2 linked regions of the Homo sapiens genome follow. The protein of the gene in region 2 purifies or fractionates together with the protein of the main gene of each other region. This does not show direct contact. Each region holds a gene or a part of one and is shown on either strand. Other genes may lie near its edges.

Region 1 (9,514 bases), on a different chromosome or scaffold from region 2:
ATTATATTTTGTTGTCCTGAACAGAGGAAAGGTCTTGCTTGAGCTTTGGTTACACATTTATAAAGTGGTAAGACAGCGAAGTAAAAAGAGCTCCCCAGAGAACCTCCCACCAGCCTTTGACTGGGAGAACAGGGTGGAGCCACAGAAGTTCATGCCATTGGCAGACGCAAGGAGCCTGGCCTCTTGAGTTCCTGTGTGGCAGGGTAGGAGCAGCTCCCTCTTCCTCTGCTGAGGTTTTTCTCTTTTTCCTTTTTTGCCCAATAAATTCCATTATTCTCACCCTTCTGTGTCCACAAGACTGATCTTTCCTGATTGTGTGACAAGAACTTAGATGAATTGAGAAGAAAGTCCTTTTTTTTTTTGAGACAGAGTCTCACTCTCACCCTAACTGTGTTTGGCGCTCAAATATGGGGCCTGAGGAAGTGAGGCAGGAAATTGAAGAAAGCAAAATAAAATTTAAAAAGTGAAAAACAAGCTTTCTATATGAGGCTGACTCATCCCAAAGGCAGTAACAGGCAAAGCCCTGACCCGGGTGTAGTCTTGATAACATTCTCAAAGAAACCAGGGCTCAAAGGATGTGCTCTGGAGACTCTTCCAGCACTCCCTCAACAAAAGGATAAGAAAAAGTAAAGTTCCCCCTTGAATCCCATCCCCTTCCGTGTGATTGTACCTTGCTCTGCAAGTTTTATGAGTTTATAGATTCCTGTTTTCTGTAACTAGTAACTTCAAGTATTCTGTTTTATCTAAACAGCACAGTGAAGGTTATAAGACATGCCTGAGTAGGCCTAGGCTGCGGCCGTCTGGGCACCATAGTGAAGATTATGAGATAAGCACTTGCAAGGCTCTTTTGAGCAAGCCTAGATAACAGCCACCTGGGCTGCATAAGCAAGGGTCATAGTGAGAGGTGACAGTGTGCTGGAAGTCCTCACAGCCCTCGCTCCCTCTCGGCGCCTCCTCTGCCTGGGCTCCCACTTTGGCGGCACTTCAGGAGCCCTTCAGCCCACTGCTGCACTGTGGGAGCGCCTTTCTGGGCTGGCCAAGGCCAGAGCCGGCTCCCTCAGCTTGCAGGAAGGTGTGGAGGGAGAGGCGCGAGCAGGAACCAGGGCTGCGCGGGGTGCTTGTGGACCAGCTGGAGTTCCAGGTGGGTGTGGGCTTGGCGGGCCCTGCACTCGGAGCAGCCAGCCGGCCCTGCCGGCCCCACGCAATGAGGGGCTTAGCACCCGGGCCAGTGGCTGCAGAGGGTGTACTGGGTCCCCCAGCAGTGCCGGCCCACTGGCGCTGCGCTCGATTTCTCACTGGGCCTTACCTGCCTTCTGGCGGGGCAGGGCTCGGGACCTGCAGCCTGCCATGCCTGAGCCTCCCACGCCCTCCGTGGGCTCCTGCACGGCCCGAGCCTCCCTGATGAGTGCTGCCCCCTGCTCCACGGCGCCCAGTCCCATCGAGCACCCAAGGGCTGAGGAGTGTGGGCACACAGCGTGGGACTGGCAGGCAGTTCCACCTGCAGCCCCAGTGCGAGATCCACTGGGTGAAGCCAGCTGGGCTCCTGAGTCTAGTGGGAACTTGGAGAACCTTTATGTCTAGCTAAAGGACTGTAAATACACCAATCGGCACTCTGTATCTAGCTCAAGGTTTATAAACACACCAATCAGCACCCTATGTCTAGCTCAGGGGTTGTGAATGCACCAATCGACACTCTGTATCTAGCTACTCTGGTGGGGACTGGGAGAACCTTTGTGTTGACACTCTGTATCTAGCTAATCTGGTGTGGACGTGGAGAACCTTTGTGTCTAGCTCAGGGATTGTAAATGCACCAATCAGGGCCCTGTCAAAACAGACCACTTGGCTCTACCAATCAGCAGGATGTGGGTGGGGCCAGATAAGAGAATAAAAGCAGGCTGCCCAAGCCAGCAGTGGCAACCCGCTCGGGTCCCCTTCCACACTGTGGAAGCTTTGTTCTTTCGCTCTTTGCAATAAATCTTGCTGCTGCTCACTCTTTGGGTCCACACTGCCTTTATGAGCTGTAACACTCACCGCGAAGGTCTGCAGCTTCACTCCTGAAGCCAACGAGACCACAAACCCACCGGGAGGAACGAACAACTCCAGACGTGCTGCCTTAAGAGCTATAACACTCACCACGAAGGTCCGCAATTTCACTCTTGAGCCAGCAAGACCATGAACCCACCAGAAGGAAGAAACTCTGAACACATCCGAACATCAGAAGGAACAAACGCCGGACATGCCGCCTTTAAGAACTATAACACTCACCACGAGGGTCCGTGGCTTCTTTCTTGAAGTCAGTGAGACCAAGAACCCATCAATTCCGACACAGTATGTAATCCTGAATTATGCACCTGTCACAATTTGATGAATTAATTGCCTTTGTGCTGCCTCTGTATCCTTGCTTTCACGCCACTATGCTTCACGCCACTGTAAGCTTGTTTCAAGCTAGCCCACCCCCTTTTAAAAGTGTGTATTAAAGTCAAGTGCTGTCTTTGTTCTGGGCCCAGCTTTTGGATGTTAGTCCGCTGGGTCTGAGTGCACTCAATAAAGTTCTCCTGTCTCACCCCATGGCCTCTCCAGTCCTCCTTCATTCCTGCAACAGAAGGATGAGTGAAATGGGGACTCAAAACCTCTCACTTTCATTTCTGAGCCTTTTGGTCTTATGGCATTCCTCTTCTTTTTGGGGGGACAGCAACGGCACCTATTTTTCTTTTTACGATACTGGAGGTGGTCCACACCCACCCCAATGGTCACCAGTGCACTCACAAGACAGTTGGGTGGGGTAGCTCCCTGGCCCCACTTCTTTACTGGCTGGGGTGCATGGTGGTGTCTGCAGCATGTGTGTGTGGTGTCCAGTAGCCACACAGGGCATAAATGAGCCACAGCCACTGCCCAGGCTCCAAGGCGCCGGCATGGCTGGCTGGCGTTCCCTACCAGGTGCCTGCAGTCTCCCCCTCCCCATTCCAGGGAGTCTAGCTCTGTCCCACAGCAATTAAGCTCCTCTCTCTGGTGGAGGAACCATTTGCATAGGAATAAGAGGTTCTTCCCCCAGGCATCCTTATCTCCTCTCCAACCCATCAGCAGTATACTTTTAAAGGAGGTTTTTCTTTTCCTTTTGGAAGACGTTTTGCTCTTTTGGGAATGATGAGGATTACCGTTTATATTTTCTGTAAAGTTTTGTGCGAAAGGATTTGTGAGGTAAGTCGTAAGCTGTAGCCAATCTGTGTGTTTTGCATGTCTTTCTGTATGCTCCACAGCAAACTTCGCTGCAGGCCTCCATCTTGTTTTACGTCCTTGGGGGCGTGGCCTGTAACCCCATTGCATAGCTTCGTTTAGCCCGGCATGGCCCAGATTCATCCTGGCTTAGGGAATGAGTCCTTTCTGGTTTGGTATCTGTATGCCCTTTCGCTATTTGTCGATTCCCCTGCCCTCCACCAACCACCTTGGATTTTCCTTTCTCTGAGCCTTTAAGTAAAGTTTGAAAGCCAGAAATATTGGCCGCTTGGTGGAGCTAAAGTTAGATAATAAGGGTGTTAAAAGAATTTTCTTAAGGAGTGCTCAGCTTAATTAAAAGTAGATATCTAAGTTGTAATTATATTTATAAGGCCTTTATGTTTTCCTTTTCTTGGACCTTATTTTGCTGGAAAAAGTGTTTCTTTGCGGTCGACTGAGTTATTTTTCTCCATTTTGCCTTGCCACTTTTAATGCCTGCATAAGAGGGGCGATCTCTGTTTTCCTCATGGAACCCCAGGAATTAAAAGCAGATAGATCCCTCTCCCTGTGATGAAAGATCTTATGGCAACTGGGTTTTCTTCTGCCTGTCTGTGTAGTTATATATGTGTTGTGTGTGATGTCTATAAAAAGATCTCTAATTAATTGACCTAAAGGAAGATAAGCGTTTGGATCAAATATTTTTTTAAAGGGAAGATAAAAGCTGTGGTATCTTTTAGTTCACGTCACTTTAATCTTTGAAAAATAAAAACAGCCTCAAATATTATTGGTAAAATACAGATGTTGTCAAAATATAAATAGACAGACTAAATTATGCAGTTCAGGTAGCGCCCTGCCGACCCTGTCTCTTAAAAAACAAAAAAACGGGGTCACCTTTCCATCCCTTTTCTAACGGTTTGAATCTCAGGACTGTATTCCTAGGCCCCTGTTGCTTATGCTGCCCTGTGGTGCCCAGGTGAGCTTTTATTCTGAGATTGGCTGGTTGGGGTATGGATAACAATCGAAGGCTCTGTTACCGCAGGCGTGTTTCTGAGTCCTGCTCCCGCCCCATGCCCGAGGGTGCCCAGACTCACCAGCTCGGGTCGCGGCTCGCTTCCCGGCAGGCGCCGGCCTACTGGCGGCAGGCACAGAGCCCCCAGCGTGCGGAGGCGCGCGGCGCAGCTCCTCAGCATGGCTCCGGGCCGCGGGGCCGCGCTTGCTCTAGCCCTGGACGGCGCACTCTACCTCCGCCACAAGAGCGCGCGTGCGAGTTAACCCCTGGGGTGGACGCAGGGCGGGGCTTGGGGAGGAGGCGGTGCGCACTACTGGCGGCTGGCTGGCCGGGGTGTGAGGCCGGCGGGGTCCGGGTAGGGCATCGCTGTTGAGTCTATCTTCTGGTTCCGGCCTTTTCTTTCCGAAGACCTCCCGCTGCGGCCAACAGCCGGGCCACTTCCGGGGCTTCTCAAAGGCAAGAGGAGCGCGGCCGGAGCGGATCCCGGTTATCGCCTTGGGCCCCTCAGCCCCTCAGCCCCGGAACCCGCGCGCCGACTGGAGGCTTTGCGGTCATCCTTCCCACATGACCCAGGGCGTACGCAGTGCTCCGTGTCCCCAAGTAGTTATCCCTCCCCCGGAAGACTGAAGTCCCTGGGGCGGGTAGGAGCGCACGCTAGGAGTAGTATGAATAAAGTGTTTTCTTGGAGGTCATGGGCAAGTCTCTGGACAGGGTTGATAGTGCTGATTTATAGAGGGCAGTCTGGGCACAAAGAGCATTTATACGATCGAAAAGCTGCTTTCCCTGCCAACAGCCCCATACCCTCCCCAGGAGCGCGCTTACGCCTTAAAAGACTCTTTTGTTATGTAAACTGACAGTTAAATTAAACGAAGGTAATGGATACTAAAGGCGTAACAGGTATTGTAACTATTTTACTGTTATCGATGCTTTTGAGGTTACTTACCTCGCTTGTATTCGTATGGTGGGAATACTAGGCGCATACCTTCTGAGCTTCGAATTCAGTAACCTCACTGGGACCTTGAAATCGGACTGGGTTGGAGTATTCCCATTACTCAGATAATGCAAATCCGGGCCATCATACCCCTTTATTTTTAAATGCTTACCAGTATGCCATAGCCCTAGTCCATCCTAAGGTGAAGACTCTAATGGGTTTTTTTTGAGACAGAGTCTCGCAGAGATACTGCTATTGCACTTCAGCCTGGGCAACATACTGATGCCCCATCTCAAAAAAGCAATAAATTAAAAAGAAAACTCGAATGACCTGAATGCATTAGATATTTTGCCTTGATTCCTTTCCCATGAACAACTCCAGCAGTTTGTCAGTAGGTAAGAACACCTAGATACATTTTAAGCCTACACTATTAACTGGGGGAAGGTGTAACATTCTGAGAGAAAGGGAATTGGGGAGAGAAGGCAATGCAGTTAGGAGGGGCCCCTTGGAATCCTAGAGCTACTGAACCGAAGATCAGGCATAAAGGATGGTTGTTGAGATTCTGTAATTCTAAGAGGTTGTATTCTGATATCTCCTAAGCACCCCCCCCAACCTCCCACATTCCCTTTATCTCAGTTGTCTTCCTTTTTAATATATTAATAGTATTGCAGTTTCCTGGTGGCAGGGATGGGGTCAGATTGCCTTATTAATTGTAACAACGTGCACGTAGTGCTTGAATACTTACTTAGCAGCAAGAATCCAAAGTATCTTTGGTGTCTGTTGTCTTCCCATGTTGTGCGTGCAGATGGAGGCACGAGCATAACGTAAATCTCTAAAATTGAGATGACTACTGTTAATGAATAGAAAAGTTTATTCAGGTAACTTAAAATTGCATCTATTTACAATTTACAGTGTAGTCAAATCAATCAATACCTATAGACTTCAACCCTGCTAAGATTGTCTATATGATTAATGTACCAATAGCTCACCTAACAGCTTCCTTTTGTTTTTTTGAGATGGAGTCTCACTCTGTTGCCCAGGCTGGAAGTGCAGTGGCATGATCTTGGCTCACTGCAACCTCTGCCTCCAGGGTTCAAGCGATTCTCCCTGCCTCAACCTCCCGAGTAGGTGGGATTACAGGCGCGTGCCACCACATCTGGCTAATTTTTATATTTTTGGTAGAGACGGGGTTTCACCCTGTTGGCCAGGCTGGTCTTGAACTCCTGACCTCAAGTGATCTGCCTGCCTCCCAAAGTGCTGGGATTACCAGCATGAGCCACTGCACTCGGCACCTATCAGCTTCTTAAAAGACCTTAGACTTAGGGCAATTAGAGGTCAGTTACACTGAGTTTAAACTTCATTAAATTTTAACTCTAAATTTTTCAAGTAGCGGCAGTGCATTTAGTTAAGTCATCCACACTCTTGCATGGCTTACTCTGGGATATTCGTGTTGACAGCACATATAAAATGTCTGGTCAGATTTGGAAGAGGAAGGGCAGGTTACAGTCTAGAAATAGGATTGATAGGCTATGGAAGTGAAGGAGTTTGAAGCTTGTATGGTTTAGGCAAGGAACAAATGTTCAATCTTGATAGAACTAGGCTTCGAATAAGCCAATGGTATGAAACTTAATAGTCTTCTCACCATTCTTTAATTTTGTAGACAGCTTTATTGAGGTGTAGTTGCCATAGGATGGGCACCGTGGCTCATACCTGTAATTCCAGCACTTTGGGAGGCTGAGGTGGGTGGATCACCTGAGGTCAGGAGTTTGAGACCAGCCAGGCCAACATGGTGAAACCCCGTCTCTGCTAAAAATACAAAAATTAAGGCCGGGCGCAGTGGCTCACTCCTATAATCCCAGCACTTTGTGAGGCTGCAGCGGGCAGATCACGAGGTCAGAAGATTGAGACCGTCCTGGCTAACACGGTGAAACCCTGTCTCTACTAAAAATACCAAAAATTAACCGGGCGTGGTGGCGGGCGCCTGTAGTCCCAGCTACTCGGGAGTCTGAGGCAGGAGAATGGCGTGAACGTGGGAGGCGGAGCTTGCAGTGAGCCAAGATCGCGCCACTGCACTCCAGCCTGGGCGACAGAGTAAGACTGAGTCTCAAAAAAAAAAAAAAAAAAAAAGTTAGCCAGGTGTGGTGGCGCATGCCTGTAATCCCAGCTACTTGAGAGGCTGAGGCAGGAGAATCGCTTGAACCTGTCAGGTGGAGGTTGCAGAGAGCCGAGATCGCGCCATTGTACTCCAGCCTGGGCAACAAGAACGAAACTCCATCTCAAAAAAAAAAAAAAAAAAAAAGCCAGAGGCAGTGGCTCATGCCTGTAATCCCAACACTTTAGGAGGCTGTGGCAGGCGGATCACAAGGTCAGGAGTTCGAGACCAGCCTGACCAACATGATGAAACCCCGTCTTTACTAAAAATACAAAAATTAGCTGGGCATGGTGGCGTGCACCTGTAATCCCGGCTACTCGGGAGGCTGAGGCAGGAGAATTGCTTGAACCCGGGAGGCGGAAGTTGCAGTGAGCCAGGATTGCACCACTGCACTCCAGCCTGGGTGACAGAATGAGACTCCGTCTCAAAAAAAAAAAAAAAAAAAAAAAAGAGATAGTTGACATAAACTGAACATATTTAAAGTATACAATTGGATGTTTTCATACAAGTTTACACTCATGCAAACATCACCATAATCAAGATAATGAGCCACAAAATATTACCCACAAATTTGCTCATGCCCTTTTGTAAATCCTCCCTTCTATCGTACAGTACTTTCTGTCACTGTAGATTAATTTCCATTTTCTAGAGTTTTATATAAATGGAATTATATAGTATGTACTTTTTGTGGTCTGGATTTTTTTAATTCACTATAACTATTTTGAGATTCATCCATGTTTTGCTTATGTCGAGAATTTATTTTTTAAAATTGCTGAGTAGTATTCCATTGTATGGATGTACCACAATTTTTCTATTCACCCATGGATGACCATTTGGCTTATTTCCAGTTTTTGTGAATTACAAATATAGCTGCTGTGAGTACAAGTCTTTGTATGGATGTATGCCTTCATTTCTCTTGGGTAAATATCTAAGAGTGGAATGGTTGGATCATGTGGTAGATGTATGTTTAACTGTTTAAGAAACTGCCAAACTTTTCCAAAGTTGTTGTATCATTTTACCAGCAGTGCATAAGGATTTCAGTTCCTCCATATCCTTGCCAGCCTTCGGTATGGTCAATCTTTTATGTTTTAGCCATTGTAACTAGATGTGTGTAAGTATTTTATTGTGGTTTTAATTGGCATTTTCCTAATGATGAATAATGTAGGACATCTATGGGCTTATTTTTCATCTGTGTATCTTCTTCATTGAAACGTCTATTCAAATATTTTGCCCATTTAAAATAATGAGATATTTGTATTCTTATTATTGCACTTATTAATGCACCTCTGATAACATTTCACATCTAAATTTTAAGTTAAATTTCAAACCTTCCATTTATAAGAAAACTGAATGTCAGCGTGATGCTAGCTGCTTTAATATTTCTTGCTGAATTTTTCTTGGATTTGTTGTCATAGGTCTCACTCTTGGAAAGGATGTATTCTTGAATTGTTATCCATGGGGCAAGGCACCAAAATGAGTCTCCGGCTGGGTGAAGGGTCCATCTTCCCTTTCAGTAGTGGAAGAAGGGTGACTGTGAAAGAGGAGGTTGAAAAGAGGAATTGCAGGCTCATTTTTAGGTAGATACAATTTATCTGCATCATTAATATTTTAATATAATGTACAGAGTTATTGTGTGGTTTTTTTTAACCATCATACAATATGTCCAAGTAATGTTGTATGGTTCTTGAAGTCATTTTAATCACATGGAGGAGAGGGAGATTTCTACTTGTGGGGTGTCAGGTAGATGGTATTGTCATTTACTACCTGTCATATGCTTTAGCTGCACAGGTCTCCTTTCAGCTCCTGGAGTGCCGCAGGCTCTTTCCTGCCCCAGGGCCTTCTTGTGTGTTGATGTTCTGCTTGTAATGCTCTTTCCCCCTACTCTTTCGTAGCTAACTCCTACTAAATTTTTGGTGTCAGCATAATTGCCACTTTCTTAGGGAGGCCTTCCCTGAACAAAGTGCTTACTAGGTTTCAGACAGTATGCTAAGTGCTTTATATACATGATTTTATTTAATCTGAATTAGGTCTTCATTAAATTCTCTCAGAGTGCTGAAACTTTTCCTTTAAAGCAATTATTATAGTTTGTAGTTAAATATATATTTGTGTGCTACCTGTCTCTCTGAGGAGACTATAGGCTTTTTCCATGTCTCTTTGGTGTACCCATGCATTCAGTGACGTGCAGATCTTAGACACTCAAAAATAATTG
Region 2 (9,018 bases):
CAGAAATTTACCTTAAACCCCTCCTCTTTCCTGATTCCAGGCCATCCCCACCAAAATGTCTAGCTCTGAAATTACACGCTATATATTATCTTGTGTCAGATGATAGTTTACACATATAATTCTATCATATTTGTTTAAATATAAATTAATGGTATATCTTCTTTTGCAATCTCATTGGTTTTGACTATTTGATGTTCAGGGAATTATCTGTCTGGCAGAACTGAAATTAGTGTGGTTGATGTGTTGCAGCCCAGGAAGTTACTACTCAAATGCTCCCTGTGGTAGAGACAGTAGGTGCTCACCCAATAGCTATGTGCTCCTACATCTCCCAGCTCCTGGGGCCATATGGCTAGTTGTGGCCAACGCACTGTGAGTGACATGTGTTCCTTTCAGATTGAAGCAGTTAAGAACTGTTGTGCCTCCTTCAAGCCTTTCTTCTCTTGCCCCAGCAACTTTGAAGAGTGTAGCTACAAGGAGGCTGCTCTTCCCACAGTGGACTTTATGTGGGCAGGAAGTAAACTTTTGTTGTGTCAAGCCATTGAGATGTTTAGGTTTGTTTGTTGCAGCAGCAGACATTAACTACTCTGACTAATAGAGTTCCTGAACTCTAGTCTCTGCAACACAGTAGGCATGCAAGAGATATTTGTTAAATACATGATTGGATGAACAAATGAATCTGTTCCAGGCAGGAGGAGGACCAGGTCCTTTTCTATATATGGAGCCATAATAACAAAAAATTTATAGTACAAAAATGATTTACTGTCCTTTTTGGGGAAGACCTTAACCTGTTTTTAGTTCAATGGCTTGCATAAACACTTAAAATGAACTATTCGTACTATTTAATTCAACTTAGTTTATCAATCCTTTGCTAAATACTCACTCTACCAGGCGCTTTTCTGGGAAATGGGGAAATAATTCTTATCCAGCTGAAGGGAAACACCACATAGAAGCTGAATGACACAAATGTACAAATAACCAAGTTAGTAAGCTAAAGTTCAGACTCAAACAGAACTCCCTTAGCAAAACTGTCCTGATTTCCTCCCCTCCTGACTCTTCCTACTGAATAACCACTTTCTTCCTGGGCTCCAAACACTTGTGTCAAAGCCCCATGACATGTGTTGCCTTTGCTTTGATATTCACACACATGCCTGTCCCCTCTGCTGGAATTTACGGTGCCGACAAGGCCAGTTTTGTGTTGTGTACTCTTTGTAGGTATGCAATAAATGCTTCTCAGATTTGAGAGCAGTGTCACGCGGGGTGAATATGCTCAATGCTATGAGAATGCTCTGGGTTTGGTACAGAGACTTGTGGAATCTTTATTCAATTTGGGGGCTTGAGGAGGTTTGGAGGAAGATTTGTGAGAGGACAGTTGGGGTGGTGGAGGGGGGAATTCAGGGGAGCAGGAGCAATGGATGTCCAGGACCAAGTCCAAGGTATACTGAAAGGACAGAAGAAACAGGATGGGGGAGTAAGAGACTGCCAAGGAAGGTAGGTGAGGGGTTAGGAAGGCTTGGTGTCAGGCTGTTATGTGTGCACCTAGTTAAGCTGGGAATGGGGAACCGTGGAAGTTGTTTGGGTTTTGAAATGTCTAAGGAGATGAGAACTGAGAACTAGGAGTTGGTGACTGAAATACTCCCCTTCATCCTCTGCTATGGTCAAAAAAGCAAACATTCTATAGAGATGAAGGATAGAAACCAGACTGAGAAAGGTTAAGGGTGAGAGGTAGTGGAAAAACTTAGTCTTTTAATTTGGTTTGTCAGTGACCCAGGAGAGAGACAGAACTTGACAATGATCAGGATCAACAGATTTCCCCAGGAAGGAGGCCATATGCATAAGTGAGGAGAAGAGATGAAAGAGGCAAGGAGGAGAGGGGCTGACCAACAGGGCATGATCCCAGACAGGTGGCATGAGGCCTTCAGAGCCCTGCTGGGGAGGTTGACCTTAGCAGGAGAGGTTGACCTTAGCAGGAAAGCAGGGAAGATAATCTTGTTCCATCAAGGGGGAGAGGTGGAGCTATTCTGAGAGGGTGTCATGGAGATAAGATCCGTTGACAGAATAGGAGTGACAAGTCACAGTGGACGCAATGGGGTTTGCCCATTTAGGAGAGTGGGAATATTCAGGAGCCCCATGTATGGAGACTGTGATACACAGTGAGCAAGAGATTGATAATATGTAGTGGGGCCCTGGGGAGAGGTTATTGAACATGAAGTCATAAGACATCATGCCTTAATTTTGAATATGAGGACAATATTTTTTCTTTATATGATAGTTAAAATTAGACATAACTAGCAACTCAACACTCTGTGTGGCATTTCCTGCATCTCACCTCTCCCCTCCCACTACAGCATAATCCCTCCTCAGTCTGGTTCTCTTTCTTTTGGCCAGGTTCTACCTCCCTTGCTTCCCTAAGCAGGTCTTTCCCCGGAGTCAGTCATCCTGTTGGTCCTGCAATAAGTGGCTTCCAAAAAATGGAATAAATAATCAAATTCTTCTACTCTGACACCCATCTTCTATTTCTTTCTGAAAATGAACTTGGATTAGTTGAATTGCTTTTCACAATTCAATTCAGTTTCAAGGGCTCTACAGCCTCTTCACAATTTCTTGCAAATTTATTTCCATCTACTTGTTTATAAAAGGTATTTGTTTCAGAGACATTGTTCTCCTTTCTCCATCACACTCACATCTTGGCCACCCCTTAGAGCCACTAATTAGCTAGAGCTATTATTTTCTTGTTTGCATTTTAAAAATACAAATAGAGCTCCCATATTATTCAGAATGCAAAGTTGCTATGATGCATATTTGAAGTAATTATCTATATTAAAAGCAGGGGTTTAATTTATTTCATCTTTAGGGGTGAAAGGATGTCACATTTATAATTATATTTATATTCTGACATAATATAATTATAATTCTGTAATTATATTTTGATATACATTGATTTTTAGGACAGTATACAAGATATTCTTAATACAAATGCAGCAAAAGGATATTTATAATTTAATGGCAATATTCTTTTTGGCACCCACAGAGACTCCAACTTTGAAAAATTTAATTGAAATGGAAAGAAAATTAAATTAGCTCTCAATAAACTTTTCCAGATATAACAAAATACTCAGCATCCTGCTTCCCTGCTCCCATGTATGTGCAGGCAGGAGCAAGCCACATGCAAGTAATGCACACAATTTATTTTCTCCTTGAGAAACACGAGTTTATTCCAGGTATCATGAACATACCCTTACAATAGACCCATTCTTCTTGAGGCCTGCCTCCTCACTAGCGATTCCTTCGCCTTGAGTATTAACCCTCCCATTTTCTCCTGCATGACTGTTGCCCTATTAGACACGAGCCAGCTTCTCCTTTTATTCACACCTTTCATTCTGAGCCAGAGCTGCCAGGGTCCTCACCCAGAGGTGGGAGTGGGGCTTAACGCAAACGCCCCCTTCCCTGCTCACCTGGTTCACCTGGCTCTACCCCGGGGTGCACGGTGCCTACCTGGAAGTCCCAGGATGGTGAAATAGGGCCTGCATTCGGTGAAGCCTGAACTCTGCCTCACGCAGCTCCTCCAGAGCCCTTCGTACTGGAACACGGAGGTGACGGGGTTGTCGTACAGGTCCTGGGTGCTCCACATGTCCATCCCGGTGGCCGCGATGCAGCCGGCCAGCCCCAGGATGGACAGGAGGAACGCCACCACTTGGCATGTGGTGGTGGACATGATCCTGGCCGCCCGCCCTGCCGCCTGCGAGAAGCTGCCGCCCTCCTGCTGCCGAAGGTGTGAAGCTAACGCGCTCCTGAGGGGAGCTCTTCTAATCAGATGGTTTCCCTAGGCTCTCAGTATTTGCTCACAGTGTTTTCCTTAGATAGCTCAGTTTCGCTCCTGGTTCAAGGGCATTATTTTTACATTTGTTAGAGAAGCGGGCCCAAGAGGCACTTGTCTGCTCTCCGCAGGCCGGGTGGGTTCAGCGCAGAGCCGTGCCAGGGAGCAGAAGGACTCCCTGCTCCGGGCCAGACCGGCCTCCCTCCAGCTCCGGCTCCTCCGGAGAGCGCCGCCATCTGGAGAAAAGGCTGACGTGTCCCCACCACGGGGAACGTGACTGCAGACCACTTTGGCTGACCTCGCTTAAGATGGCCCCTGGGAAGCACCCACCGTGCTCTGTCTTAAACCAGACTTTTCACATTTTCTCCTCACAACTCATGAACGACTTTTTTCACTTACATCTTTCCATTTTGATCTTACAGAAATGGGTAGGGCAGGCACTATTATCCCCATTTTTTGGGGGTGAGTCAAGAAAAGTACAGATAAGTTAAGGGACTTGTCCCAGTGCCTGGAACCACAGATACTCTAAAAACGGCAGGGGTGGGGCTCCCACCTCAGCTTCCAGTCCAGCGCTCTTTCTCTGTTTCCATATGGAGCAGCAGGGGCAGGCAAAATTGTCCCCACTTTTGAGAACACGAAGCCAAATCCTAGATCTATGCTCTTGGTCCATAAGCATTGGAACTGGGATGAGAGGAAGCCAGGGACCCCGTTGATTTCCATGTCATGCTTTCACTCGTGCCACAAGAACCACATGAGGACTCTGTGGCTGACACAGGAGGTCCCACAAAGGCCAGAGGAGGGACCAGGGTTAGCTGGGCTGAAGTCCTTGGCCTGGTCACGGAGAGGCTTAGGATCTGCTCCTGATGCTGCCCCTAACTTGTCGTGTGCTGGGCAGGTTGGGGGCAAACTCCTAAGCCCTTGTAGGTCACAGGTTCTTCATCCACAACATGTGAGATCTAAACTAGAACACTCCAGAGCCTTTTCAGATCTCATACACTATCTTCTACATTTTGCAGAAAAGTTTTCACTAGAATTGGTCAAAATATTAGGAATTGTATAATCACAGTAGAGAGACTTGGCTGAAGACATCAGGTGTTATGTTTTGTCTATACAACTAAATTTTGCTAGAGAATTGGTTGACGGATATGGGGGCCAGGTATGTCTGGCCTCTGAATCCAGAGACTTTTTAAAAATTTTTTGAGATGGAGTCTTGCTCTGTTGCCCAGACTGGAGTGCAGTGTTGTCATCGGGGTCACTGCAAATTCTGCCTCCTGGGTTCAAGCAATTCTCATGCCTCAGCCTCCAGAGTATTTGGAACTATACATGCATACCACCACACCCGGCTAATTTTTATGTTTTTAGTAGAGACAGGGTTTCACCATGTTGCTTACGCTGGGCTCGAATTCCTGAGCTCAAGTGATCTGCTTATCTTGGCTTCCCAAAGTGCTGGGATTACAGGCGTGACTCACTGTGCCTGGCTTCCAGATATATTTTGTTTTTATTTATTTATTTATTTATTTTGAGAGGGAGTCTCACTCTGTCGCCCAGGCTGGAGTGCAGTGGCGCAATCTTGGCTCACTGCAACCTCCACCTCCTGGGTTCAAGCGATTCTCCTGCCTCAGCCTCCTGACTAGCTGAGATTACAGGCGCCTGCCACCACACCCAGCTAATTTTTGTATTTTAGTAGAGATGGGGTTTCACCATGTTGGTCAGGCTGGCCTCGAACTCCTGACCTCAAATGATCTGCCTGCCTCGGCCTCCCAAAGTGCCAGGATTGCAGGCGTGAGCCACTGTGCCCAGCCCTCCGGAGACATTTTAATGACACTCTCCAAAATCTGGACCTCAAGGCCCTGAAACATACACACACACCCACACACACCCCCACACACCCCCACACTCCCCCCCCACATACATACTCCAATCTTTAACCTTTATAGGTCTTTACAGGTTCTCCAGGAAACGAGCCTCTGTGTCTGGACATTTTGTTATCTTGGGTGCACCCAGCCTCTGCTCCCACTGCATTATTCCCAGCAAACACAGAAAGCAAATAGGGAAGAACTACCTCTAATTTGAATGGAGGCAACACTCCCCTTCACTGCACACCTTACTTTAGGTTCTGTGATCAGTGTTTCTAGTGAAGCATGAGCCAGAAAGCCTAAAATAAGAGGGTAAGCAACAGTTACATGATCTACAGTGAAGGAATGTTGATGGCAGTGTGTCCCTTGAGTTGTTACAAGGCCAATTCTAAAAGGAGGGAAGGGAACAGTTAGAAGTGACACTGGTTTCTGCTGGTGGGCATAGATTGACCAATTAGGTTGAAAACTGTTGTTGGAATAATTCAGGAATGATTCTACCACTGTTTCCATAGACAGAGTCTATCTTACTTTTATTTCAACCAACAGGCAGGCTTTTTAATCCTCATTTTAAAAATTTATTTCATTTAAAAAATTTATTTTACTTTAAGTTCTAGGATACATGTGCAGAACGTGCAGGTTTGTTACATAGGTATACATGTGCCATGGTGGTTTGCTGCACCTATTGACCCATCATCTAGGTTCCCTCCCCTCACCCCCCCGACCCCCGACAGGCCCCAGTATATGTTGTTCCCCTCCCTGTGTCCATGTGTTCTCATTGTTCAGCTCCCACTTATGAGTGAGAACATGTGGTGTATAGTTTTCTGTTTCTGTGTTAGTTTGCTGAGGATGATGGCTTCTAGCTTCATCCATGTTCCTGCAAAGGATATGATCTCATTCCTTTTTATGGCTGCATAGTATTCTATGGTGTATATGTACCACATTTTATCCAGTCTATCATTGATGGGCATTTGGGTTGGTTCCACATCTCTGCTATTATAAATCGTGCTGCAATAAACATATGTGTGCATGTGCTTTTATAGTAGAATGGTTTATATTCCTTTGGGTATATACCCAGTAATGGGATTGCTAGGTCAAATTGTATCCTTTTATTCTTAAAAAGCTCTATTGGTTTGATTTTCAGATGTTCAATTTATGACATTTGTCTAACCTTCCCCCGACAATACATATACATGTGTTAGAATACCACCAAAAACATAGATTGAAGATGGAAAAATAAAAAAATTGTTGATTAAAGTTATCTATTTTTCATCTATGGCAATTCCCCCCCCAGTTTCCCTATGCAAATGTTTTCATGCAGAGTTTCAAAATAGGGAAAAATGTTATTCAGATAATAAGGAATTAAATTTTCTTTCTTGGCTGAAATGGTGACAGTGACACTTTTTTGAAAATAGAAAAAGTTAATTTTAAAGGATAAACTAAGACTATCTCTACCTAGGCAGAATACTGAATGAGAGGAGTGAAATTGTAAATCTACACACTTCTTCTGTGTGAAATAAATACTGATGTGTTTTAAAACACCTGGAAGATAGGATTTTTCACTTCCTGGTAAGTTTTCTGGGCTCTGAGCAGACTACTATTTTAGCCGTATCTGCCAAAAAATGAATGGGGGTCTGCAGAGGAAAATATGACTTTCTCATTTATGGCAATAGGCTTTATTGAAACATATCAATGTATCTCTACCAGATAAGTCCAGGTCTGATTCTGTTTAACAATAATGGGGTTGGTAAACTTTGTTTAATCACCTTTAAAATGGAGCTGAATTTTTGCTGACTTCCTAGGGGAAATCATCCCTGCATTCAGGTTTAAATACGGCCCTGGCAGTGTCATTTCAGGTTGTAAGTTTCCAAGAGCTTATATTATTTTACTGCCATTGGAGAAAACATTTCCACCACTTTTTATAACACTGTCTATGGTAATTAGGCAAAAATGGTGGCATAAATAACAATAGAAAATATTATAGCTAGGAATTAGGAAGAAATAAAATGAATATACTAGTGAGAAAAATAATTGACACATCTATTAATTTTTTCTTCAAAAATATTACCACATATATCCCTAATTTTTAATTTCACCTTTTGGTGTTCATAATAGAAAATTTGGAGAGAATTTGAACAAATTGCTCACAATTTTAAGCCCTAGACAAAATATTTGGCATACTTCCTTCTTATCAATTATCTGTATGTATTTTTTTACATAATTAAAGGATAATATAGTTTGATGTTTTGCTCTTTTCACTTAATTGTATTAGTTTCACCAAAGCTCTTGTAAACATCATTTAATATGAGTGTGTTAGTATTTCATTATATAGAAGTGCTATTATTCACTTATTTTTATATAGTTAGATTGTACCTTCCCCCATTTTTTTGAATAAAAGGCAATGTTATGATGAACATCTTACATATAACTCTTTGTCAGCATTTCTGATGACTCTTTTAGGATAGATTCCTAGGAGTGAAATTAAGTTGTCAAAAACTGTGAAGTTTTAAAAAATCTTTTTTTATACACAACCATATTGCTTTCTATGAATTTTATCCTAACAGCAGTGTTTGAAAGTTCTTATCTCTTTACATCCTAGTCTACATTGTGAATTTGGTAAGTTATATATGTATATGATTACTTGTTTTAACTTGCATCTCTTTAATTACTGAGTTTGAGCCTTTTTGAAAAAAACGAATATGAGTTCATGTCCTTTGCAGGGACATGGATGAAGCTAGAAACAACCATTCTCAGCAAACTAACACAGGAGCAGAAAACCAAACACCTCATGTTCTCACTCGTAAGTGGGAGTTGAACAATGAGAACATATGGGCACAGGGAGGGGAACATCACACACCTGGGCCTGTTAGGGGGGTGGGTGGCACGGGGAGGGATAGCATTAGGAGAAATACCTAATGTAGATGGTTAATGGGTGCAGCAAACCACTATGGCACATGTATACCTATGTAACAAACCTGCACGTTCTGCACATGTATCCCAGAACTTAAAGTATAATAATAATAAAAAATATTCATCATCAAAAATAGAAAAGAAAAAAAACAAAAAACCCAACAAGTTTGTATGAAGCATTTGATTTTTGTTCTTTTCTTGAATTGTCAGTTTGTATTCCTTCCTCATTGATTTACTAGAATTTTAGCACTTTTTCTATCAGTTTATCTGAGCTATGTATTTATTAAGGATTTTAATACATTGCTGTAATTACTAAAAACATCTTTTCCCATTGATTATTTGCTTTTAAATTCCATACATGATTTAGAAAAAAACATATAATGTATTTTATTTTATGTGCTTCCTGGTGCCTGGTACATAAAGTATGCTCAATAAATATTT

Evidence for each region.
Region 1: the proteins of CLDN18 (region 2) and THEM4 purify together in Homo sapiens (affinity purification with mass spectrometry; 2 studies listed by BioGRID and IntAct, with this or other methods). This does not show direct contact.

What each region holds. Positions count from the first base shown.
Region 1 is NC_000001.11:151,905,056-151,914,569, forward strand, and holds the start of THEM4 (acyl-coenzyme A thioesterase THEM4), read right to left. Parts: upstream 4,457-9,514; 5' UTR 4,404-4,456; coding exon 4,305-4,403; intron 1-4,304. UniProt on the Homo sapiens protein: Has acyl-CoA thioesterase activity towards medium and long-chain (C14 to C18) fatty acyl-CoA substrates, and probably plays a role in mitochondrial fatty acid metabolism. Plays a role in the apoptotic process, possibly via its regulation of AKT1 activity.
Region 2 is NC_000003.12:138,004,920-138,013,937, reverse strand, and holds the start of CLDN18 (claudin-18), read right to left. Parts: upstream 3,774-9,018; 5' UTR 3,713-3,773; coding exon 3,493-3,712; intron 1-3,492. UniProt on the Homo sapiens protein: Involved in alveolar fluid homeostasis via regulation of alveolar epithelial tight junction composition and therefore ion transport and solute permeability, potentially via downstream regulation of the actin cytoskeleton organization and beta-2-adrenergic signaling.